2 separate regions of the Homo sapiens genome follow, and region 1 is linked to region 2. The links come from fine-mapping of genetic effects on gene expression. A gene starts in region 2. The other region holds a variant in brackets. All regions are shown on one strand. Distances are from middle to middle.

What was found. PIP is the estimated chance that this variant, and not a neighbour inherited with it, causes the effect.
Region 1: its variant is fine-mapped to the expression of LAMTOR5 in whole blood (INTERVAL, PIP above 0.99).

Annotation. Positions count from the first base shown.
Region 1 is chr1:110,310,739-110,328,146 of GRCh38, reverse strand. It overlaps RBM15-AS1 (RBM15 antisense RNA 1), which reads left to right. Exons shown (of 4, transcript NR_036595.1): 2 at 9,265-9,382. Among named protein-coding and RNA genes, the nearest start is that of RBM15-AS1, 20 kb to the left of the region's middle. The variant ATTATTATTG/G (reference allele first, on the strand shown) is at 9,191.
Region 2 is chr1:110,402,188-110,411,851 of GRCh38, reverse strand. LAMTOR5 (late endosomal/lysosomal adaptor, MAPK and MTOR activator 5) reads left to right here and starts at 4,158. Exons shown (of 4, transcript NM_001382293.1): 1 at 4,158-4,266; 2 at 5,473-5,534; 3 at 7,816-7,933. The coding sequence starts at 4,232. It overlaps LAMTOR5-AS1 (LAMTOR5 and SLC16A4 antisense RNA 1), which reads right to left and starts at 4,043. Exons shown (of 3, transcript NR_102697.1): 1 at 3,898-4,043. RefSeq lists an enhancer at 3,987-4,216.

The DNA of each region.
Region 1 (17,408 bases), 88 kb after region 2:
TCGATTATAGCATGTCATTTCATGATTTGACTTACATTATCTAATTCGATTCTCACAGTAATCATATGAGTAAAGACAAACATTAATATCTTAATTGCAGATTAGAACACTAAATTGCAGATTTAGAAAACTAAAATTCAGCTAATTATGATTATCGTTGGTAGTATTTGTTTTTTTGTTTTTTTTGAGATGGAGTTTCGCTCTTGTTGCCCAGGCTGGAGTGCAATGGTGCGACCTCTGCTCACTCCAACTTCCGCCCTCGCAAGTTCAAGGGATTCTCCTGCCTCAGCCTCCTGAGTAGCTGGGATTACAGGCACCTGCCACCACGCCTGGCTAATTTTTTGTATTTTTAGTAGAGATGGGGTTTCAGCATTTTGGTCAGGCTGGTCTCAAACTCCTGACCTCAGGTAATCCACCCGCCTCGGCCTACCAAAGTGTTGAGATTACAGGCGTGAGCCACTGCACCCGGCTTTGTTTTTTGTTTTTTGGGTTTTTTTTTTTAGATGGAGTCTCACTCTGTTGCCCAGGCTGGAGTGCAGTGGCATGATCTCGGCTCACTGCAAGCTCCGCCTCCTGGGTTCAAGCGATTCTCCTGCCTCAGCCTCCCCAGTAGCTGGGACTACAGGTGCCGGCCACCACACCCGGCTAATTTTTTGTATTTTTAGTAGAGATGGGGTTTCACTGTGTTAGCCAGGATGGTCTCCATCTCCTGACCTTGTGATCCGCCCGCCTCAGCCTCCCAAAGTGCTGGGATTACAGGCTTGAGCCACCATGCCCAGCCTTCCTTGTTTTGTTTTTAAAGAGGGAGGCAGTAGAGTTGAAGGGAAAGGAGCAGTGGCACCATTCAGGAGCCCCAGATTCTCTAGACAGAATCTCTCCCTGTCAAGTCCTGTAATTCTATGTTTTGTGACTTTCCCAATTTGGCACATAAGTCTGCAAGGGACAGAACTCAAGTCCACTGACTGCCACCACTGGACACTTTCCACTGTATCCCATGTCAAACACGTTGTTGGAAATGACATGGGTCTTGAGAAGCTGCCTCTCCTTCCCAAAGTAGAAATGTGAACAAATAAATCATCACATGATCCATTCACTGACAAATAAAAGCCAGCCTTTATTGAGCACATACTACATGCCAGGCACTCCACTAAAACTTTCCTCACATTAGCTTACTTTACCCTCACAACAACCCCAGGAGACAGGTAGGCTTATAATCCCTTTTTCTTCAGAAAAAGAAACTGAGGCTTAGAGATCTAATATATTTTACAAATATTTAAGAAGAATAATATGTGTACCCTGATTGATCCCCTGGCTGCCACCACAGTCTGTGCAAAGTATTTGATTTTAAGTCATACTTCCATATTGTGGATGACACTGCTTGTTGTGTAACCAATATCCATTCTCCTGTTCTTTGTTGTGAATAGGTGCAATATTTTAACGGGAAAGTTGATAACAAGTGGTGCAGACAATTCTATAGAAATGTAATGTAGAAATATACAATAACTATGTTATTAATTGCCTGCTTCAAGAATGGTACTTTAACCTCAGTAGTTTATAGAAACCACAAGAGAGTATTTCACTTGATTGTGGACAGTTTAGAGGCAAAATTTAGGTGTTTTGCAAAGGAGATGGAGATTCAGGGACTCTCAATTATTGGACAAAGCGTCTACAGTCAGAGACAATAAAAGTTTGATTTTCAGCTGTTTATTGGGTATTAGGCAAAATTCTCTTGCTGTTTCTAGTGTCTGGTGGAGATATCAATTTAAAGAGCTCTTCAGAGTATATTCTATGTAGTCTTCCTATCTCTCACATCTGAAATTCCACCCACCTATAAAAACTGGTATGGTTATAAAGTTGATAGAATATGAGTACATCTGTTACCAACTGTGTTTCTTTTTTCTTTTTCCTCTTCTTTTTTATGGTTTTAAAATTAATTACATAGAAGACTGCCTTGGCCTCCCAAAGTGCTGGGATTATAGGCATGAGCCACTGCTCCCAGCCAACTGTGTTTCAGTTGGACAAAACGTGGTAGATTCAGATATTTTCTGGGGTGTTTTAGCACATCAAGTCTGTCACACAAATGCAATCAACTTCTGAGATCTCACAAGCTATTTCTGTGAGCCCACTATTAGCGAGATGAGACAAAGTTTAGAGAAATCCAGCCTCTTGAAACAGCTGTAAATCATCTAGTAGAAAAAAAGTGGAGTTTTGGCTGGGCACGGTGGCTCACACCTATAATCCCGCATTCTGGGAGGCCAAGGTAGGTGGATTCCTTGAGGTTAAGAGTTCAAGACCATCCTGGCCAACATGGGGAAACCTGTCTCTACTAAAAATACAAAAATTATCCAGGTGTGGTGGTGTGTGCCTGTAATCCCAGCTACTCAGCGGGGTGAGGCAGGAGAATTGCTTCAACCCAGGAGGCAGAGGTTGCAGTGAGCTGAGATCGAGCCACTGCACTCCAGCCTGGGCGACAGATAGAGACTCTGTCTCAAAAAAGAAAAAAGCAAAAAAGTGGATTTCTGCAAATGTTTGTATATATGTAGCATGAGTAAAAGCAGTATTGCCATGAAATTTTTAAATTGTAAGTTCCAGGCAGGGCATGGTGGCTGACACCTCAAATCCCAGCACTTTGGGAGGCTGAGGCGGGTGGATTGCTTGAGGTCAAGAGTTCGAGACCAGCCTGGGCAATATAGCGAAAACCCGTCTCTACAAAAAACACAAAAGTTTGCCACGCATGGTGGTGGGCACCTGTAGTCCCAGCTACTCGGGAAGCTGAGGCAGGAGAATCACTTGAGCTCAGGAGGCAGAGGTTGCAGTGAGCCAAGATCACGTCACTGCATTCCAGCCTGGGTGACAGAGCGAAACTCTGTTTCAAAAAAAAAATAAAATTGTGATTTCCTTTAATAAATCAACTAATTAATCATTATTAATCATGTTTTATGTGCCTAATAGTTAAAATACAGGGAGAAAATCATGATATGATTCCTACCCAGAATTTGCTTATATGGGGACAAAAACCAGGTACACTTAAAAATTAGTCAATGAATAATTAAAATATAAATATTTATAAGTTAAGCCTTCAAAATATCTTGTATGCGATAAATACATAGAATTTTATCTGTCAAAAAAAAAAAAGTTGTCAAGTATAAAAATTTAGTGAAAGTAGACCAGCACAGACTGGGAAAACCAGGCCAGTTATATGTGTTCATTGTAACATTCCAGACAGTACAGAATGCACAGTATAGAATTCTGATTACATTCCAAGCAATGTTTTATGAGGGGTGCTGACTCTAAGTGTCCTTAGTGTGTAACCTTGGGCATGGCACCTAATCCCTCTGTAAACTGGAGTTGTTGTGAGTAAATAAGAGAGTAGGTAACTGTAAGAATGTCAGGAATTGCTATGGGCAGTTGTGAGATGATGCTTAAACTCTAAAGACCCCAGAGGCTTGGGGACAGGATGAAAGACTTGTATTTGTGATGCTAATAATTAGTATAATTGGGTATAGAATGAGTTGACTCTTGTTTGAGATGTTTTTCAGAAATATAGGAATTTTTGCATATGGTTGAGGGTGATGATAACTTCTATAATCCCTCCCAGCTTTGAAATTCCCAGGTACATAAATCAAACTTGCAGTCATGAAGAGTAAATGGTAGGCCCCAAAGTGCATGGTTACAGGTGGGTGTTAGGCTGGAAAGAGAGTCCTGGGGCTCTTTTTAGATCCTAATAATAGATGTTCCAGAGAACATCTCTAATTTTAAGACATGTTTCTGCACAATGCTTTGCTTGAATGAATTGAGGTAACAGCAGACCACTTCTTTCCCCATTCCCAATCCTTTAGGTACAGAGGGGAGATTTCTGGAGAAGTGAATGGTTATCTATGAGTTATTACAAAGCCAGCTCTGTGTGGGTTCAACTGCTTTGTAGAAGAGGGATTGATCTAGACACATGAATTGATTTTTTTCAGCATCTCTTCCACCACCGTCATCTTAGGCTAAGTTACCACCATCCTGAACCACTTCAATAGCTTTTTAAACAGCTCACCTAGATTCACTCTGGCTCACCTCTGATGAGTTCTCCACTCAGCAATTTGAATGGCTTCCATACTCCTTGGATAAAAACAAATTCCCAACATGGCCTATAGCGCCCTATATGGTGTGGCCTTTTCTATCATTCTAGCCTCATCTTGCTCTCCATTCTTTCACTGGCTTTCTTTCTATCCCATCCTGGGGCAAATGCTCTTCTCCACCCTCATCCCCATGTGAACTCCTACTCATACTTTAGATGTCAGCCCCAGGTCACCTCCTCAGAGCAGCCTTCCCTGACCAGACTGAAGCTCCCTATTATAGGCTCTCATTTGGCCATGTAATGTGACTTTTCTTTATTGCACCTGTCAAAATTACAATTTCATATTTCTTATGATTATTTGATTTACAGTTTAGTGCATTTGATTCATGTGTATCTCCCCCCAAGTCTTCATAATGTCAGGACAGTATGTCTGGTTAGTCACCATTTTATCCAGTCTCAGCACACTGCCAGGCACATAATTGGCACACAAAAATTGTTGCTGAGTGAATGAATGAACGTAATCTATGATAATATTTTCAAATATCCTATAAAATGAAGTTGAGTAAAAAGTCAAATGACTTTAGAAAACACTTTATACCATATTATTTAAGCCTCCATCTCTACCCCCCACACACATATTTTCATATAAAAGACTGTCAAATCCTGCAGTAAAGAAGCCCTCAACTTATTTGACCACAGGATATAAACCAGGACCTACTGGGGGCAGCACTTCTACTTAAGAGAGACAACTTGGATGCCAATGCTAGTGCTGTTTCTGGAAGCAGCAAATGGCAGGAAGTGTTCTAAATGTGTACTAAGAGAAATTTCCCAAGAATTGGCCAGGCACGGTGGCTCATGCCTGTAATCCCAGCACTTTGGGAAGCCAAGGCAGACGAATCACTTGAGGTCAGGAGTTTGAGACCAGCCTGGGTAACACTGTGAAATCCCATCTTTACTAAAAATACAAAAATTAGCCAGGTGTGGTGGTGCACACCTGTAGTCCCAGCTACTTGGAAGGCTGAGGCACAAGAATTGCTTGAATCCAGGAGGTGGAGGTGGAGGTGGCAGTGAGCCGAGATCACGCCACTGCACTCCAGCCTGGGTGACAGAGTGAGACTCTGTTTAAAAAAAAAAAAAAGAGAGAGAGAGAGAGAAATTTCCCAAGAGTCAAGCTGCCTTGGGAATCCAGGCAAGTCTAGGATTTAAAATGTTTTAAATGGCGCCACAAGCACAAACAAGTTCTACAAATAGAACCTGCACAGTTAGCTGAAGAATGGACTCTACTCAGCACAGTATGTAGCACAGTAAACATTTGTTTGGTGAATGAATGGAGAGAGAAAGTATCTGGGGTGATCACACCTTAGCTGGTGGTCTCATCTTTTCATAGAAAATACAATTTTATTGTTAAACCTAAAATTCAAGTGTGAGTAGATCTTTATGTGTGAGCATTTTAACTGGCTATGTAGTAAAGAGTGAGGCATAATAAACCTGCACCATTCACAGGAACTTACATACCTAGTAACTGGATTTAAAGAAGTACCATGAACACGCTGAAGACAATTAAATACTGATCTTGTTGGTTTTGTGATAAATGTTTTGTCCATCGCTGCTAATGCTAGGACTTAATATTAAATTCAGTTTCATCAAATCCAATGTTTTCTCTTTCTTTTTCACCCCAGTGCTAACCCTCTTTGATCTTTTGGTATCTTTTTGACAGTGTCACAACTCCTCTTTCTTTAAATTCTTTCTGCCCTTGTTTCTGTGACCTGCACTTTCAATTCAATTTCATTTCAACCAATATTTATTGGTCATCTATGCTGTGCCAGACACTGGACTATCATCATTGGTTTATTAACTCATTCCTCCACATTAATTGAGTTCCTACTGGGTGTTGGGCACTGTGCCAGTGACGGATACAAAGATGAACAAGATGTAGTCCCTGACCTTAGAGGCTGCACAGTGTAGTGAAGGAGTCAGCTAACTATATCATGGAGTGGAGAGGCTGTTATAGAAGTGCACACTCAGGGCCTGTGGCCCTCAGAGAAAGAATCGATTACTTCTCTATGGGGGGAGGGGGTACATCGCATAGCACCATGCCTGGCACGTGCTAAATTTTCAACAAATATTTGTCAAAGAAACAAATAGTCTTCCAGGTGGAGATAACAGCACAAACAGGGATCTCTAGGGAGCCCTCACTAGCTAAAGTAGTGGTTTTCAACACAGTGAGGCAGAGTATTACGTTCTCTGGAGGCATGGAAGGGGATGGTGAAGGGAACAATGTGTATCTGAAGGGGGATTGCATATGAAAAATGTATTCCTACTGTTGCAATTTAACTTATAAATTTTACAAACATGCATATTTAAAACCACATTACATAAAATATTAATTTATAGATTCAATTTTATACATTTATATAACAAGAATGAGAATAAAATTATTGTTTTCATAATATGAATTACAGAAATTAAAGCTCAAACTAGGAAAACTGGATAAATATAGGTAAATATAGAAGTTCCAGAGGTTCTGCAGCAAAACCATTGTCTTCTTGAGGATGGTGGTGAGATTTTTATGTTTAACAAAAGGGGGTGTAGAATAATGGGCTCTGAAGGACTGTATTTTGTAGGTTAAGGTTTGTCAACTGGTGTCAGAATCAAAATCAAAATCACCTGGGGATCTTGTTTTTTTTTTTCCATTTTATTTTATTTTTATTTATTTATTGTTTTTGTTTTGGGGATGTTGTTTTAAAAAGCAAATTCCTGGATCCTATGTGTTACATAACAATAGGGATACATTCTGAGAAAAGCATCATTAGGTGATTTCATCGTTCTGCAAACATCATAGAGTGTATTTAAAGAAACCCAGAGAGCATAGTCCACTATACACTTGGGCTATATGGATAGCCTATTGCTCCTGGGCTACACACCTGTACAGCATGTTAACGTACTAAATACTGTAGGCAATTGTAACACAGGAGTATTTGTGTATCTAACATATTTAAACCTAGAAAAAGTATAGCAAAAATACAGTATTATGATCTTATAGGACCATTGTCCTGTAAGACAGTGTTCGTCATTGACCAAAATTTCATTATGTGGCTCATGACTCTGTGTGTGTATACATATATATATAATTTATTATAAGGAATTGGCTTATGCAATTATAGAGGCTCAGAGGTCCCGAGATCTGCAATCAGCTAGCTTGAGACTCAGGAGAGCTGATGATGTTAATTTCTTTTATTTATTTTTGAGATGGAGTTTCACTCTTGCTGCCCAGGCTGGAGTGCAATGGCGTAATCACAGCTCACCACATCCTCCGCCTCCTGGGTTCAAGTGATTCTCCTGCCTCAGCCTCCCAAGTAGCTGGGATTACAGGCATGTGCCACCACACCCAGCTAATTTTTTGTATTTTTAGTAGAGACGGGGTTTCTCCATGTTGGTCAGTCTGGTCTAGAACTCCTGACCTCAGGTGATCCGCCCGCCTCAGCCTCCCAAAGTGCTGGGATTACAGGTGTGAGCCACCGCACCTGGCCTCAATGTTAGTTTCATTCTGAAAGTTGGCAGGCTTGAGACCCAAGAACAACCAATTTTTTAGTGGGAATCTGAAGGCAGGAAAAGACCCATGTGCAGTTCAAGTGGTCAGGCAGAAGGAGTTTCCTTTTACTCCTTTTGTTCTATTTGGGTCTTCAATTGATTAGATGAGGTTTACCCACATTAGGGAGGGCAGTCTGCTTTACTCAGTCTACTAGGTCAAATGTTAGGTGTATTTTTGTTTGTTTTGTGACAGAGCCTCACTCTGTCACCCAGGCTGGAGTGCAGTGGTGTGATCTCAGCTCACTGCAACCTCCACCTCCCAGGTCCAAGCGATTCTTGTGCCTCAGCCTCTTGAGTATCTGGGATTACAGGTGCCTGCCAGCATGCCCACCCGGCTAATTTTTGTATTTTTTGTAGTGATAGGGTTTCCCCATGTTGGCCAGGCTGGTTTCAAATGCTTGGGCTCAAGTGATCTGCCTGCCTCAGCCTCCCAAAGTGCTGAGATTACCGGTGTGAGTCACTGTGCCCGGCAAATGTTAGTCTTACCCAGAAACACCCTCACAGACATACTCAGAATAATGTTTGACCAAATGTCTGGACGCCCTGTGGCTCAATCAAGTTGACACAAAAATTAACCATCACACAGATGATTACTGATACATACTGTGTATCATATAGATGCTTTTGAATGCACACTGTAATCTGAGGACCTTTACAAGCCATTAGGGACCATGGAAGGTTTTCAAGAAAAGTGATTTGATCAGATTAGCTGGGAACTGCTTAAGAAGGATCCCTGGTGGCTATGTGGAAGGTAGATAGTGATAGGGTAGGGTAGGTGAAGCAGGGCAGAGTGGGGTGGAGCAAGACTGGAAGACAGGAAGGTATTGTGCAAGACAGAATGATGAGGTTCTATTCTTTTCTCTGCTAATGACCCTTTCCCCCTTACTATTGCTACATAACAAGTTACTCCAGTGCTTAGCAGCTTAAAACAATTGTGGGTCAGAAATCTGGGAAGGGCTCTGCTGGGTGGTTCACACTTGAGGTCTCCCTCATAGTTGTAGTTGGATGTTGGTTGGGGCTTTATTTATCTTGTCTGTGCTAAGGTAAATAAAGATGCATGGTTGGCAGTTGATGCCAGCTGTCATCTGCTGTACACAGCCTCTCCAGCAGGGTAGTCTGGGGGTAGTCAGACTTCTTACATGACATATGGCTTCATTTCAAGAGAACCAGGCAGAAGTCTCATGGCCTTTTCTGATCTAGCTTCAGAAGTCATACAACATCTCCTCTACTGTACTCAATTAGTTGAAGCAGTCTCAAGTGGTCCAGATTCAAGGTGGGGTGGGAGGAATTAGACTCCACTTCTTGATGAGGGCAATGGCCAGTTGACAGTATAGAAGAACATGTGGGATGGGAACACGTGTTGTGGCCATCTTTGGAAAAAACAATCAACATAGCTCCCAAATTGACTTATTTTATATACACAATTACCCCCAAGATATCTCCACTTGGAAGTTTTGTTGTCAACTCAAGTCTAAAAGAGAATTTATCACAACAAACCTCCATCCCATTATTATTATTATTATTATTATTATT[ATTATTATTG/G]TAATATGATAACTTTTTAAAAAAACAGACTAAAACATTTTTCTTTTCTTTTTTCTTTGAGACAGGGAATTGCTCTGTCACGCAAGCTGGAGTGCAGTGGTGCCATCTCGGCTCACTGTGACCTCTGCCTCCTGGGCTCAAGCCATCCTCCCACCTCAGCCCTTCAAGTAGCTGGGATTACAGGTACACGCCACCATGCCCATCTAATTTTTGTATATTTTGTAGAGACAGGGTTTCTCCATGTTGCACAGGCTGACTAAAACCTTTTATCTTTGACTTTTCTCTCTCTGAAAATAATCTGCTACAAAGTCCTATTTTTCCTTCTTCCTTTATGTTGGTTCCACATCCCACTTTCCTAATTCTGGAGTGGGCCCCTAACTGAAGTCCATTTATCTAAATTTCTAATATTGGGTTCCCTGGGAAGTGAACTCTGAGGCAGAGCTTAGCATGCAGGGTTTTTCTTAAGGGGTTACTTTGAGATGGACACCTGTGGCAGGGAAGAGAAGGAACTAGAATTGGGAAGGATAAAAAATGGAGCTGCAATACAGGCCCAACACAGCCTCAGCTGACTCAGTGAGGAGCTCTGGAGTTAGAATGTTCCTTCAGAGTTGTCCCACAATGGGCTAAGACGGATGAGCTTTTATGTTTCTGCATTGTCCAGTCATTGGATGGGCCACCATGGAAAGGAGCATGAGCTTGGGCAAGGCAGCTCTCTGCAGTTGAGGAAATCCCCGAGTGGCTGACAGCTGCTGGTTGTGCACTTACAGCACTCCCAGGAGCTGGAGCAACAAGTCCTTCCTTCATTCAGTCTTCAGTAAACTTCGTTCCACATCATTCTCTCCTGTTGACTTACCCTCTGATTATTTCATGGCCGCTATTTTGCCCCACTCCAGTGCAGCTAGGTTATGAGCTCCTTGAGGGAAGGAATGGAGGCCTGCCTTTTCCCCACGATATTCAGCACAGATGAAGTACAGATATATGTATAGTCAGAGCTCAAAAGGTGCTTGGTAGTCAGTTAACCAGGGCTTCGGACTGATGCAGAGATTGCTGACCGTACTGTTTGTATTACCATTACCATAGCAGAAGAAATACTTTAGGGGACCTTCACCTCATTGTCTTTCTGAGGGAGAAGAAAACTAACATCCTTGTTATTAATAGCTGCCCAGAGCTTGTGGTGCTGGGCAGGGAGTGGCAGCAGGTCCCGGAAACATTGCCTCTCTGATTCAAGCTGCATCTGAGGTCCTACTCCCCACCCGGCCTTTCCCCTCCACGAAGTAGAGCTGGGATCCTTCTGGTTCTCACAGGGTGCTGTGTGCATTTAACTAATTAGTGGCTATAAAGTGTTGTCCAAATGTCAAGTATAGTTATGGTTAGCAATTACTTTTGCCTGGAGAGGCAGCATTCCAGCCATTGTCGAGGGAGGGAGATAAGTGATAGAGTGTTCTATTAGAGACTGGGGGAGCAGGAGCTGCTTTCCTGCCCTCAGAGGGTCAGGAATCTGGATGCAGCTTTCACACACACACAGGACACACCTAAGCAGGAATCCCCTGTGGAGTCATATTTTTCTTTATCGATTCATTTCCAATGTGGAAAGAGAGAAAAACATTTCTGAAGTGCACTGCCCGGAGCCACCATCAAGGTAGCTTCTTAGAGTGTGGTTGAGCTCTGAAAGCCACTCATGAAGACCCCCTTCCCCGGGCCCCTTCCCCGGGCCCCAGAGATGTTGTGGGTGAAATCCACCTGCAGGTTTTCTTGCCACCCCCACAGCGTTACCTCAGCATCTGAAATTTAACAATAGCCTCTGCAATCATAATAATACATTAAAAATAAAGTACTTTGGGGCTCCCTAAATGGAAATTTCTATGTGATTTTTATATTTAGAATTCTTTCTCTCCCTCTGGGTAAATTTTATAAATAACCATTGGGAATGTTGAACAGAATTCAATTTCCATATTGATTCTCTTTTGTCTTTTCACATAGGAAATACCAAGCAATTTTTTGTCACGTGACCTTTTCCCATGAAGGTTTATAAAATTAGATAATGTAAATTGGCAGGTAAATAGGAAAGGAAGGAAGAAAAGAAGGAAACAATGATGTGGAAATAAGCAATGGTTTGCTTAGAAAGAAATGAAATTCCATGTTCTATCTTGAGATAAATACAGGTTCATCTCACTATCCTGCCCGTTTGTAGTTAGAGTTGGAGGCTATACTAGCTAACATTGATTGAACACTTGCTGCGATCCACATAATTCTCAGGTACCTCCTATGTCTTATCTCATTTATGTCTCACATTAACCCTGCAAGTAGATATTATTATCAACCCATTTTATAGAGTAGAAACTGAAGACTCTAGAAATTAAGGAATTTACCACATGTCCATCTGGCTCCAGAGCCAGCCAGGGCTCCTAACATCACTCTGCTACTAAAGGCTGGGTGGGGCATGCCGTGAATGTGTAGGGATTGTCATTTCTAGAAACAAAAGCCAGAGCACTGTAAGTTCCTGGGATCAATGAAGATTCCTTCATGCCAGCTCACTATGGACACCCCAGAAGCATTTTTGACCCTCTTTACCCCAGGACTATGCAGTCTCAGAAGTTTCTTGGTGAAGCTTTCCTGTGTCTAAGTATTGAAACTCTAATTGAAACTTGAGTCCATGTCCATTATTTACACTAACTCAGAAATAACCTTAGAAAAATATATATATTTTTAAGGGATAGGGTCTCACTCTGTCACCTAGGCTGGAGTGCAGTGGCTGATCATAGCTCACTGCAGCCTCAACCTCCTGGGCTCAAGTGATCCTCCCACCTCAGCCTCCCAAGTAGCTGGGACTATAGGCATGTGCCACCATATCTGGCTAATTAATTTTTTGTTTTCGTAGAGACAAGGTCTCACTATGTTGCCCAGGCTGGTCTTAATCTCCTGGGCTCAAGCAATTCTCCCTCCTCAGCCTCCCAAAGTGCTGGGATTATAGGCGTGAGCCACTGCACCCAGCCCAAAGACATTCTTTTATATAAAAACCTACAGGCAAAGTTTTTCCTGACACATCCCTCCCCCACCCCACACCCCAGTCTAGGGCAGTTCTTGCTACCCATAATGCACTCTTAGAGCATTCTAGTCTTTTCCTTCATAGCATTTATTGTAGTTGTGGATTATATGTTGGTGTGACTATTTGACCAGTATCTCTCTGCCTCACCAGGTTGTAAAAACCCCATCAGGGCAGTGACTGAGTGTGTGTCACTGTGTGCAGCATCCCCAGAACCTAATACCATGACTGCATGGAACAAGCACCCGGATATAGGAATGAAGGACGCTACTGGTGGCCCCGTCCAGTTCTGAGAAAATGCTGCCACAAGCTACAAGAGAAATCTGCTTCTCTGAAGCCTTTAAAGATTTGGTTACTTTTTCAAAATGAATATTCTTTAATACACAATTTCAATAATTTCTGAAATGAGGATAATGGCTGGGTTTTTTTTTTTTTTTTTTTTTTTGAGATGGAGTCTCGCTGTCACCCAGGCTGGAGTGCAGTGGTGCAATCTCAGCTCACTGCAACCTCTGCCCCCCGGGTTCAAGCAATTCTCGTGCCTCAGCCTCCTGAGTAGCTGGGATTACAGGTGCCCGCCACCACGACTGGCTAATTTTTTTATTTTTAGTAGAGACGGAGTTTCACCATCCATGTTGGCCAGGGAGGTCTTGAACTCCTGACCTCAAGTGATCCGCCTATGGCTGGCTTTTTATAATAGTTAAGAATACTGCTCCTGGAGTCAGAGGGTCTGGTTCTCATCCTCTGATTTTGATCACAACTTGCTGCATGATGATGATCAAGTGTTTGAACTTCCCAGTGCATCCATTTCCTCCTGGGTAAAGTGGGGCTAATACCGTTAAAGCAATGATGTAAAAATTAAATGAGCTAACACAAGTGAGCGTTCAGAATTGCATCTAGTGCATGGGAATCCCTCATAAGTATTAGCTATTATTATCAGTGTGCTATCAGCTTGGAACTCATGTAGTTCTGCTACAGATTTGTATTGTTCCTGAAAACAGAATATGAGACCAAATTGAGGCCAGGTGTAAAGGCATCTGGACCTTATATCCCTGCTGTCTAGTTTCTTCAAGAGGCCAGAGAGAACCTCCCTCAACTCCAGCCTACCAAGTGTCATTTATTTTAATGCAGTGTGCCCCCAGTCTTAGGAAATGGAATTCTTCATCTTCCAAGGCCTCTGGCTGAGACTGGAGACTTGTGCCTGCTCCACTGCTTGGCTGGATTAGATGCCCTAGAAAGATACTTTTAACTCAGAGAAACTGTGACTCCATGAAAGGGTCAGATCCCACCAAAAGTCATCCCAGTTCTCCATCAGTTTCTCTCTCCACTCCACCTCCCCCAGCCCATCCTCCGTCTGGGCTCCAGGGCTCTTTCCTTCTGTGTTCCCACAGGATGGTGCCTGCTTTTACCCACCCTCTAGACTTTGCCCCAGTCACCTCAAACAGCCGAGGGTCCAAATTTAGTAATAGAAATTCACTTCTCTAACCACTTTACAAAAACATTAACTCATAACTCACGGAAACCCAATGAAGTCGGTGCTGGTGGCACCTCCATTTTACAGATGATGAAACCGAGGAGAGGAGGGAGGTTGAATAACTTGGCCCAAGGTCACTTGCTGAAAAGTGGCAGAGCTAGGATTCACTGCCTCTGGTTCACTGCCTTGAAAGGAAGGAAAGTCTCCCCACTCCCACCACTGGGGAACTCTTCTTTAACTTTCTCCACAGTATCATTGGTCCGATAAATGAGAGGCAAGGAGAGAAACAAAGATGGATGTATGTATAAACTTAGGCAAGCATGGAGAGCCATGGTGATGTGGTTAAGTGTTAGTTCTTGAGCTGAATTGCACTGGTTAGTGTCCTGGATTTTGAATGTACTAACCCTGGAAAATAAAATTAGAATAATAATAAGTGTACATACATACCTTACAAAGTCATTTTGGACATGAAGTTAATAAATATTAAGCCCCTTAGAACAATGTCTGGCATATAGTAAGTGCTCAATACTTGTTATCTGCCTTTTTTTTTTCTTTTTACGTTCTCAAAAGGCAGAAGCAGCAATGCCTTTGTATAAAGAATGGTAGACTTGGAATCAGAAGATTGAGTCTGAGTACCACTTAGCTTTTGCTTCCTGTATGATCACCAGTGAAGCATTTTTCCTCTGTGAGGCCTTGCTGTTTTCATCCCTAAAATTGGGATGATGATACTTTTACACACTGAGATGGTGGCCTATGAAAGAGCTTTGTAAATTTGCAAGCTGTGGCCAAATAATTATCCCATTTTGTGATTTAGGACTTCTCCTAGAGTAGACAGAAAGTTGCCTTTCAGAAGGTCTTCAGACTCGCTTCTTGGCCTTTTGGCTAAGTTCAAGTGCAGAAAGTCTTCAGACTGAAAATACCTTCATCTTTTAGAATTCCACCACTGGAGAGTCATTGTCCGAGTCTTCCAGACTTACTAAGATAAATGGCAGGAAGTAGAGAGCCCAGTGTGTTTGCGGGGAGAGAAGAGAAGTCTCAGGAATATGACTGCCGTCTTCAAGGAGTTGAAAGGCTGTCACAGGGTGGCCTGGTCAGACTTCTGAGTGACCAACAGGTAAGAACTGGGTCTCTAAGTGGAAGTGTCAGGGCTGATTTAGTGTGAAAAAAGAAGAGCATTCTTTTGATTATAGCTCTCGGAAAGTGGAAAGGGCTACCTGATAGTGAGTGCCTGCCATTGGAGGCATTCAAACAGAGATTTGAGACCACTCCATGGGAATGTGGTAGAGGAAATGTAACGAGTCAGGTGGTGATGAAACTAGTTGACCTGGGCCTGGGAAGATCTAATTCATCCTAGAATGGCAGCACGCTGTGAGGGAGGGGAGCGCCTCTGAGGGAGCGGAGAGCTGGTTATGCAGGGACGCAGGAGGAAAGTATAGGGGGAGGCCTGCTGGGAACACAGGCCCAGCTCAGCAGAATTCACTCTTTTCCCAGAGTAGCTCCTGTCTCTTCGGCCACTTTAGGCCCTAAAGCCTAGAACTGTACATGATACACTCATTCATTCAGTTAATTCAGCAAATATTTACAGGCCTGAGAGTCAATTCCCACAGCGGACACAGTGTGGGATTGCCTGCCCTGGCAAGCCTCCTGCCTGGTGACCAGCAGAGGGCAGGAGAGACGTGCAGATGCCAAACCCTGCACAGCCCACTAGCCAAGTGAGCTTCCCTGCCGGGGAAACTGGGTCACTCAGTCCTGCCAAGCTGCAAACATTCCGAGGGTTGTGAGCATGTTGGGCCTCTCCGGCAAGGGCCTCTCCAGCAAGGACCTCTCCAGCAAGGGCTATGAGGCCCTAGATGTCACCTGGCAAGGCTGAGACCTCAGACCTCTGGACTGGCAAAGTCGCTCCCTCCTGCATGGGGAAGGAAGGAAGGATGAGGCTGATAACATGCGATGGCTCAGGGAGAAGGCTGAAGGGATCTCTTCCCAGCAAAGTGTTTCAAGTAACAGGGACAGCCCAGTCTACATGTCACAGAGGAGCCATGGGAGGCCAGGCCTGCCACGGTGGATGGGTGGGGCCGTTTGCTTCAGAGAATGCCTGGACTTCACTAAAGGAGTTTGAGGCTCTCCTTAGGCTGGGCTGAAACCCCCATTTGGAAGTGCATAAAAGGCTAACTCTCTGGATATGAATGGGTGAATGCCAAATCTGATACCTGAGTGGTTAGGAGGCAGGTTTGGAGTCAGATTTGCCTTTGTGTCCTGGTTTTCCATCTATATGTCATGGGACCTTGGGTAAGTCATTTTCAGACTTGATTTCCTTTTCTATAAACTGGTGGTGCTACTGTGAGTATTAAGTGGAATAATGAAGCAAGTGTGCAGATTGCGATTCTTTCTCCTTCCCAGCTCTCTCTCATCCTGGTCGGGGGACTGTGTGCTTGGGATAACAGTTGAAGCAGATGTTTTTTTGAGAATGGAAGCGAAGAGTGGATGCCCACCATGCTGTCAGTCTGGGCAGGGTGAACTCAACCTGAAGGAATGCTGTTCTGGGTAAAGCACGTGGAGCCACCTCTCCCCAGGCTTCTCTGGCCCCCATAGAGTCCTGCTGCAGAAAGATGCGCAGTGTATGAAGGCTCGCGTGGCCTCTTGAAGTCTGAGGGTTAAGAAATCAGGGAGGTGAAATAGGCCTGGAATGGGAGGAAACTGGAGGATGGAATGGGAAGGAGCCATTCCCCAAATTCCCATTCCATTTATGGACTCTGACGGTTAGAAGGGCCACTTGAACCTGCAAGCAAGGACCAGTTTATGCACTCTTCAAAATGTGTTTTCTCAACTAATCTAAGACATTGAAGCAAGGACTTTGTTGCCCATTCCTCTCCAGGAGGGATGGTGGGTGCTGATGCTGCTATGTAAAGGCTCTCAGCACCGTGCTCAATACTTGTTTGCTATTGATGAGGAAGGAATCTTGGACAAGTAATTTGAGTTCCCAGTTTTACTGATTAAAAAATAAATAGAACTGAGGCTCAGAGAACTGTGGAACCAGGAGAGGTAAAGTTCCTCTCATTTGCAATTGCTGCTAGAATCCTCATCTGTGACCATCTGGAGAAAGTGGCTCGATCCCTATGGTGAGCTGCTCAAATCTTGGAGTCTCTCTGCCTCCTTGGGGATTTCTCTTTGGATACATCCTCTCTACTAAACTCTAGCCACTGCTTGTGTTACCCAACCCCAGATGGGAGACAGACTGAGTTTTCCTCATTCCAGCCTATCCTTTAGGGCTCCAAGGAGCAGCAAGTGCTTCTCAGGTTGAGGGGTAATTCACCAGGTGTGTAGTGCTGGCAGCACAATGTGATAGAGCCAGTCACCTGCATTGCAATTCCAGCACCACCATGTACTGGCTGTGGGACCTTAGGCAAGATACTTGATATCTACAAGTCTCAGTGTCCCCATCTATAAAATAGGGACACTAATAGTATTTACCTTATAGCTCCTGTTCTTTCCAGTCCCTCTTAATCTGAAATTGGAAGGATGAATAAATTAAACAGCCATCTTCTTCCCTGGGAAAGCCAAAGAGCAACTCAAAAGGAAAGAATCGGAAGCTGGGCTTTGGAGTCTTCTTGTCCAGGCACTAGGAGCTGTTGGGTGGTGTAAATAGCCCTGGGCTGGGAGAGAGGACCATGGCCTAGCACATCTCTGCTATCAGATTG
Region 2 (9,664 bases):
AAAAGAGAAAAGAATGAACTTTTTCAAAAGTAAACATAAAAAATTACAATATAATGAAACAAATGCTCTAATACGGATGTCATGGAACTTTTCCTGTCACCCCAGAAATGGTTGCCAGCACTCAAAACTAAGAACAAAGAATTGTTAAATACCCCACAAGCTAAAGAAAGTAGAAAACAAGGGTCAGATACTTTCCCCAACCATCACTCCAGCCCCTAGCACTTGCCCAATTTATATATACTATTCCTCTCCCATTGCCTACTTGCACAGGGGCAAGACAGCAGCAGGGCAGAGAAAGCGGGGGTGGTAAGGAGTAGCCTGCTCTCTCACCTCCCATGTGGCAAGGACATGTGAGCCAGCTATCATCCTCTTCCTACTTGATTTCCCTTCAAAGGCCTTCCTTATAGCTTAAAAAGCAATCGCCAGTCTTTCGGAGAATCCTTTTTTTTTTTTGAGACAGGGTCTCATTCTGTCACCCAGGCTGGAGTGCAGTTGTGCAATCTCAGCTCACTGCAGCCTCAACCTCCCGGGCTCAAGTGATCCTCCCACCTCACACAAAGTACTTGAGACCACAGGTGCGCATCACCATGCCCAGCTAATTTTTGTGCTTTGGTAGAGACAGGGTCTCCCCACGTTGGCTAGGCTGGTCTCAAACTCCTGGGCTCAAGCCATCCGCCCACCTAGGCCTCCCAAAGTGCGGGGATTACAGGCGTAAACCACCATACCAGGCCTGAAAACTACCATGCCTGGCCTGAGAATCCTTTAATCACTGATCTAGCTTTGAGATAATTTGAGATATCCTTGGGCTACACTGGCCAATACTGTGGCCACTAGCCACAGGTGGCTGCTGAGCACTTGAAATGCGGCTGGTCTGAATTGAAATGTGCTGCTAACTGAAAAATATACCCTGGATTTTGAAGACAGTACTGGAGAAAAAATATAAAATATCTCATTAGTATTTTATCAATCACAAGTTGAAATAATATTTTGAATATATTGTTTGAATAAATAAAATGTTATTAAAATTAGTTTCATCTGTTTTACTTTTTTTTGAGACAGTCTCACACTGTAGCACAGCCTGGAGTGCTGTGGCTCAATCTCGGCTCACTGCAACCTCCAGCTCCCGAGTTCAAACGATCCTCCTGCCTCAGCCTCCTGAGTAGCTGGGACTACAGGCACGCACCATCACACCCAGCTAATTTTTGTATTTTTAGTAGAGATGGGGTTTCGCCATGTTGGCCAGGCTGGTCTCAAACTCCTGACCTCAACTGATCCACCCATCTCGGCCTCCCAAAGTGCTAGGATTACAGGCGTGAGCCACTGCACCCTGCCCTGTTTTACTTTTTTTTTTTTTTTTTTTTTTTTTTTGAGACAGAGTCTCGCTCTGTCGCCCAGGCTGGAGTGCAGTGGCGCGATCTCGGCTCACTGCAAGCTCCGCCTCCCAGGCTCACACCATTCTCCTGCCTCAGCCTCCTGAGTAGCTGGGACCACAGGCGCCCACCACCACACCCGGAGAATTTTTTGTATTTTTAGTGGAGACAGGGTTTCACCGTGTTAGCCAGGATGGTCTCAATCTCCTGACCTCGTGATCCACCCGCCTCGGCCTCCCAAAGTGCTGGGATTACAGGCGTGAGCCACCGCGCCCGGCTGTTTTACTTTTTTTAATGTGGCCACTAGACTATATTGCCCAGGCTGGACTTGAACTCCTGGGCTCAAGGGATCCTCCTGCCTCAGCCTCCTGAGTAGCTGGGATTATAGGCACGTGCCATTTCACCAGGCAGTACTTATGTTTTCTAATGCTAAGTTTTAAACTGCTTTTTCTAAAACTTATATGGCCTGTACTGTGTTACCCCTAACTTAACATGAATAATTTCTCTAGAGCAGGAGTCCAAGACCCCTGAATTATAACATTCAAACTGGAATTTTGGCTGGGTGCAATGGCTCATGCCTATAATCCCAGCACTTTGGGAGGCTGAGGTGGGCGGATCGCTTGAGGTCAGGAGTTTGAGACCAGCCTGGCCAACATGGTGAAACCCCATCTCTACTAAAAGCACAAAAATTAGCCACGTGTGGTGGTGCATGCCTGTAATCCCAGCTACTCGGGAGGCTGAGGCAGAAGAATCGCTTGAACCAGGAGGCAGAGGTTGCAGTGAGCTGAGACGGCGCCACTGCACTCCAGCCTGGGCGATAGAGCAAGACTCTGTCTCAAAAAAATAAAGAAATAAACAAACTGGAATTTCAAGGAAGCTGCAAGCTTCACTATGACAGCTGCGGAATAAAAAGGGACTCTGAATGCCAGTGCAGTGTATTGGACTTTGGTTCAATACCAAAGTCTGGTATCTTCCGATCTGGGAGCTGGGCCCCAGATTGGAAGGTAGGCTGTGAGTAAAAAGCTGGAGGTGACAGAGTTGGAAGAAACTTAGTGCAAGGAATGATCCACAGAGGGGGTGAGGCTTACCAATTTGAGTAAATTAGCACCACTTTTTCGGGAGGCAATTTGTAAGTATGTATCAAGAGTCTTAAAAAATGATCATGTCCTTTAACCCAGTCATTCCATTTCTAGTAACTTATAAGGAAATTTTAAAACTGCACAGATATTTAGCTATGAGGATATTCAACCAGCATTGTAATAGCTAAAACAAAAAACAAACAAAAGCAAAAAAAAAAAAAAAAGTCCAAGTACAGTGGCTCACCTGCAATCTCAGCGCTTTGGGAAGCCAACGAGGGAGGGTCACTTGAGACTGGGCTACACACTGAGACTCCATCTCTACAATTTTTTTTTTAATTAGCTAGGTGGGGTGGCGGGTCCCTGTAGTCCCAGCTTCTTGGGAGGCTGAGGTGGGAAGATCGCTTGAACCTAGAAGGCTGAGGCTGGACTAAGCCATGATAGTGCCACTGCACTCCAACCTTAATCCACAATTAAGATACAGCTATAAAATGGAATATTTTGCAACTACTACAAAGGATGTAAGTGAAAACTTGACATGGAAAGACATTTATTCTAAACTCTGTAAAGAAGGCCAGCTACAGAATTGTACCTCCAGTATGTATGTCAATTTTGCTTACAAAACAAACAAAACAAAAAAAACCATGCTAGGCGTGGTGACTCAGCCTGTAATCACATTTTGGGAGGCTGGAGTGGGAGGATCTGTTGAAGCAAGGAGTTTAAGACCAGCCTGGACAACACAGCGAGACCCCCATCTCTACAAAAAAACGTAAAAATTAGCCAGACATGATGGCTCGAGGCTGTGGTCCTAGCCAGTCGAGAGGCTGAGAGGTGAGGATAGCTTGAACCCAGGACGTCCGGGTTGCAATGAGCTATAATCGTTCTACTGCACTACAGCCTGGGTAACAGAGCAAGACCCTGTCCCCCAAAAAATTTATTTTAAAAAGGCAAACGAAAAAACATTAAAAGTATACATTTACAAAGACAACTATCTGAAAGGATATTCTCCAAGAAGTTAAAAGTCGTCTTTGGACAGTGGGGCCATAGATGTTTTCCTATTTTTACCAGCTTTATAATTAATTTTTAAAAGTTATTTTCAAGTAGTCCTACCCAGTCTTCCTTACGAGTTAGGACTCAAATGCCACTCTCTTCCCCTAAACTGTCCTGAGTCCCCTCACCATAATAAGCACCAATGTCTTCGTTAAAATCCCGACACTGCCAACACTCAGCTAGGGGGTTGAACCTTGCTCCATCTCGTCCTTTAGTCTCTGTGTGCGTCTTTCCCCCTACAAGCCTACTGACCCCCTCCAAGAGGTCCCGTGTCTTCCCCGTACTTGCCCCACAGGCTAGATCAGACCCTGTCTGACCCCTGGGTTATTGTAAAACTTAAGATCTGTCCCCTAGGTCTCGGAGTCGGTTGAACTAGGGTCCAAAGGTTAAAAAACACTGACACAAAATGCCAGGCCACGAACTGAAGCACTGAGGCCCGGCTGCAGACCTCTCCCGAGAGGGGAATAATCCGTGCCGGCCGGTTCCGCCATGGAGCCAGGTGCAGGTCACCTCGACGGTCACCGCGCGGGGAGCCCAAGCCTTCGTCAGGCTCTGTGCGACGGAAGCGCAGTGATGTTTTCCAGTAAAGAACGCGGACGTTGCACCGTGATCAATTTTGTCCCTTTGGAGGCGCCGTTACGGTCCACGCCCCGCTCGCGTCAAGTGACTGAGGCCTGTGGTGGAGAAGGACGTGCCGTGCCGCTGGGTTCTGAGCCGGAGTGGTCGGTGGGTGGGATGGAGGCGACCTTGGAGCAGCACTTGGAAGACACGTGAGTAGTGCGCGCCTCTTCGGCCTGTCCTGAGGTCGCGGCGGAGGAACTTGAGCGGAACGAAAGGCGCGAGCTGCGAGTACCGGCCAGGGCGTCTCGGGGACGTCGCGCGACCCCCGGGACACGGGATGAGGGGGCTAAACTCTACCCAAGGCCGCAGGGCGGGGCGGGTGACCCGGAATTAAAATCCTGCCGGGCACCGCACATTCCCTCTTGAGCGAGTCTCCCGGGCCCAGGCCACGGGCCAAAACTGCCTATCTCGTTGTTGAAATCGTCTTTACGGTCAGGGTGGTTCTGCGGAAGTTTTAGAAAACGGGTTGACTTTTGGGAAGATTGTGCCAGTTGTGCAGTGTCGAGCCCTGCAGTGTAAACAAACACGTATCTCCTGTGTGTAACCTATCAGTTACTTGGTGCTTAAGTAGATAAAAATCATTCTTTAAATTTTTCGAACAAGCAGTATCTATGTAAAATTCAAAACTGGAAAAGTGTAAAGGGTACAGAGAGACACCTGCCTCCCACCGATGTCCCTCAGCTTCCACTTACCCTCCAGGAGGTAACTTGAGTTTTTCAACAGTTGTTTTAAATGAGTTAGTACTAAAACATGCGTTTTTAACAAGAGTGAAAACATCCTAGATGTTTTTCACGCAGTGTTTGTGGCCCTCCAGAACTCAGCAGTACTTAGCACATTTTTTTCTCTCATCAGAGAGAAACTGGTTTATTTCAATTAATTAACTAGAACTTAAATTTTTTGTGTTCTTTTTTTGAGACGGAATTTCGCTCGTCTTCCAGGCTGGAGTGCAATGGCGTGATCTCGGCTCACTGCAACCTCCGCCTCCCAGGTTCAAGCGATTCTCTTGCCTCAGCCTCCCGAGTAGCTGGGATTACAGTCATGCGCCACCACGCCTGGCTAATTTTGTATTTTTAGTAGAGACGGGGTTTCTCCATGTTGGTCAGGCTGGTCTTGAACTCCCGACCTCAGGTGATCCGCCCACCTGGGCCTCCCAAAGTGCTGGGATTACAGGCGTGAGCAACCGCGCCCGGCCCTAGAACTTAATTTTTTTCTTAGGGTGTGACAATGAAAAAAGATTGAGAAATATTGATTTAAAGCACTTAATGCCTGGTACATAGAACACCTGTATGTTTGTACTTATTTAAATCCTTTTTCTCCCATTATGTACTTCAACTCTCTTGTGTTCCTGGAATTAGAATGAAGAATCCCTCCATTGTTGGAGTCCTGTGCACAGATTCACAAGGACTTAATCTGGGTTGTAAGTATCTCTCATACCAACTATTTGATGAATTGCATAGCATCTGATGTTGACTTGGAGCCTAGCGTGCTATTATTTTCTAGCTTTTATTTCCTGTTACCTTGCCAGGTCTTTCTGAGTTTGAGAGTAGAGATTATCTCCAAATAACAGTATCAGAAAATTGAAACTTTTCAGTTGGTATTTATGAAGGAAGATGTTCCTTGCAGTCCTATAACAATAAATAGTTGTCTCTACTAAAAATAATATTTGAATCATTTTAAATTGAGTCTAGAAAGGACTTCAGATAATAACAGCTGTTAACCATTTATTGAATGTATGCCATATGCTGAGACTGCTAGGCTCTAAATACATTATCTTTAATTTTCACAACAACCCGGCAAGGTGGGTGGTGTACAATTTTGAAGCTCAACTACACTAAACAAGAAGTGAATAGGCAGTAAAATGGGATTTCAGTGTTGGACATACCTGGTCTCAATCCCTTGCTCTTTCATTTGTTAGTAGTGTGAACGTGGACCAAAAAACTACCTTTTAGGCCCTCATTTTCTTCACTGGGTTGTTATTTGATAATGGTAATAATCATAGAATTATATTTATTGAGCTGTTATGTGCCAAGCACCATTGTAAGTGCTTTACATATACTCTTTTATTCCTCATAACAACCCAGTGAGGTAGAAAAAGAAATTGAGGGACCAGGTGCAGTGTCTCACGCCTGTAATCCCAGCACTTTGGGAGACCAAGGTGGGCAGATCACTTGAGCCCAGGAGTTCAAGACCAGCCTGTGCAACACAGTGAGACCCCCCATCTCTATTTTTACAATAAACATATATATATGTTTTTAAAATTTAAAAAAAGAGGCCGGATGCGGTGGCTCACACCTGTGATCCCAGCACTTTGGGAGGCGGAGGCGGGTGGATCACCTGAGGTCAGGAGTTCGAGACTAGCCTGGCCAACATGGTGAAACCACATCTCTACTAAAAATGCAAAAAAAAATTAGCCAGGCATGGTAGCAGGTGCTAGTAATCCCAGCTACTCGGGAGGCTGAGGCAGGAGAATCGCTTGAACCTGGGAGGCAGAGGTTGCAGTAAGCCGAGATTGCACCATTGCACTCCAGCCTGGATGACAAGAGCGAGACTCTGTCTCAAAAAATAAAAAAAGAAACTGAGACACAGAGGTTAAATAACTTGCCTGAGGTCATGCAGCTAGTAAGTCGTTAAGCTAGGATTTTTGTCTGGCCCTGAGGCCTCTTAATCACTTTTTTTTTTTTTTTTTTGAGACGAAATCTTGCTCTGTCGCCCAGGCTAGAGTGCAGTGGCACGATCTTGGCTCACTGCAACCTCCATTTCCCAGGTTCAGGCAATTCTCCTGCCTCAGCCTCCTGAGTAGCTGGGATTACAGGCGCCTGCCACCACGCCCAGATAATTTTTGTATTTTTAGTAGATACAGGGTTTCACTATGTTGGCCAGGCTGGTCTCGAACTCCTTATCTCAGGTGATCCACCCACCTCCGCCTCCCAAAGTGCGGGATTACAGGAATGAGCCACTACACCCGGCCTAATCACGATATTTTAAGGTTATATAATATGTATAAAATGCTTACATAGAACTGAGACATAATACTTAATAAATGGTAGCAATTACACATGAGGAAATAAGTTTGGAAAGGTAAATAAGTAAAGCATTCAGTTAATTAGTGACAACTAGTAAACCCAAGACTTGTTGCTCCTAATGCAGGAATGTTTAAAGCTCTGAATTTTTGCTGGAAGGGTAACTGAAAGAGGTAATCGGTGTAACTCAGTTATGTTTAACATGCAGATCAGTCATTTGGGAGAAAAAGGGTAAATTTTTGGAAGCATTTGCTAGGCTTACTAATGGAAAGACTGAAATTCAGGTATGGAAATCTAAAACTAAATGAGTTCCTTCAAGAAACCTTCAAGGCTCAAACGTCGGCATCGGATCTGGTCAAAATGTTTTGTATAGTAATAGTACATCCAAATGCTCTGCCATAGTGGCATGTCTATTACCTGATTTGGTTTCAGGTACAGTTAACTTTGTGTTGCCTTTATATACAGAAATATATTGTAAAGTACACTTAGTAATTAATTTTCGTACCTAGAATTTATAGGTACTTTTGTACCCGAGATTTAGTTACTATAATATATACAGACTAATACAGACATTAATAAAAAGACAATTCTGTAGACATTTTAAAACAGCCAGCTAGCTTATTTTAGCAGAAATACTCTATGAGCAATCAGGTGACATATATCATCTCTATTTTCCAGGCCGCGGGACCCTGTCAGATGAGCATGCTGGAGTGATATCTGTTCTAGCCCAGCAAGCAGCTAAGCTAACCTCTGACCCCACTGATATTCCTGTGGTGTGTCTAGAATCAGATAATGGGTGAGTAGATTTCAGCAGATCCTTTCCTTTTTGTTCAGAAAAATTCCTGGTAAAATTGGCGGGGGCCGGCCCTGTGTTCATCAGTGATTCCTTATTCAGACTACTTTGGGAAAAGTTCTTAATCTTTTGAATCACAGGAACAGACAAGTTGATCCCTAAAGCTAATGTGCTCTCAGGCCACAATGCTATTTAAATGAAGAATAAGAATTGGCAGAAGCTATCAGTTTACCAACAAAAAGAAAGTAACAAATAGCACAAAGGAAAACTAATCAGAGAATAAAAATTACTTTTTTTTTTTTTCTTTTTGAGGCAGGGTGTTGCTCTGGCACCAGGCTGGAGTACAGTGGTGTGATCATGGGTCACTGTGACTTCAACCCCACCGGGCTCAAGCGATTCACCCAACTCAGCCTCCCGAGTTGTAGCTGAGACTACAGGTGTACACTACCACACCCAGCTAATTTTTGTATTTTTTTGTAGAGATGAGGTTTCACCATGTTTCCCAGGCTGGTCTCGAACTCCTGGGCTCCAGTAATTTGCCCGCCTCAGCCTCCCAAAGTGCTGGGATTACAGGAATGAGTCACTGCACCCAGCCAAAAATTACTTCTAAAGCAATAAAATTACTAAAGATATTCCAAGTGATGGTCCTCAGAATAATATGTGAAAAAAAGTATATATATACAACTGCTACTATCACAGCCTTGTAAAAAGAAAAAACATACAGTCATGCATTGCTTAACAATGGGGATATGTTCTGAGAAATGTGTCAGGCAGTTTTGTTGTATGAACATCATAGAGTGTACTTAAACCTAGGTGGTACACCCTATTACACACCTAGGCTGTATTGCTCTTAGACTACAAAGATTTGTAGCCTAAATAATGTAGGCAGTTATAACAGTGGTATTTATGTATCTAAACGTAGAGAAGATACAGTAAAAGTATGGTATAGGGAAATTTTTTAAAAGGTATATCTGAATAGGGCACTTACCATAATGGAGCTTACAACACTGGAAGTTGCTCTGAGTGAGTCAATAAAACTTTTTGACTTTATAATAACACTTAAAACAGTTGTACAGCTGTACAAAAATTCTTTTTTTAAACTTTTTTACTTTTTAGACTTTTTTGTTAAAAGCAAAGAAGAAACACACATTAGCCTAGGCCTGCACAGGGTCAGGATCATCAATATCACTGGCTTCTATCTCCACATCTTCTCCCACTGGAAGGTCATCCAGGGCAGTAACATGCATGGAGTTGTCATCTCCTGTAATGATGATACCTTCTGGAATACCTCCTAAAGGACCTGTCTGAGGCTGTTTTATAGTTAACCTTGTCTTAATAAGTAGGAGTAGTATACTCTAAAATAATGATAAAAAGTAGGCCCGGCATGGTGGCTCACACTTGTAATCCCAGCACTTTGGGAGGCCAAGGCGGGCAGATCACTTGAGGTAAGGAGTGTGAGACAGCCTAACCAACATGGTGAAACCCTGTCTCTACTAAAAATACAAAAATTAGGCATGGTGGCAGGCACCTGTAATCCTAGCTACTCAGGAGGCTGAGGCAGGAGAATTGCTTGAACCCGGGAGGCAGAGGTTGCAGTGAGCTGAGATCACGCCACTGCCCTCCAGCCTGGGCAACAGAGCAAGACTCCGTCTCAAAAAAAAGAAAAAAAGTATAGTAAATACATAAACCATAGCATAGTCATTTATTATTATCAAGCGTTACGTACTGTACATA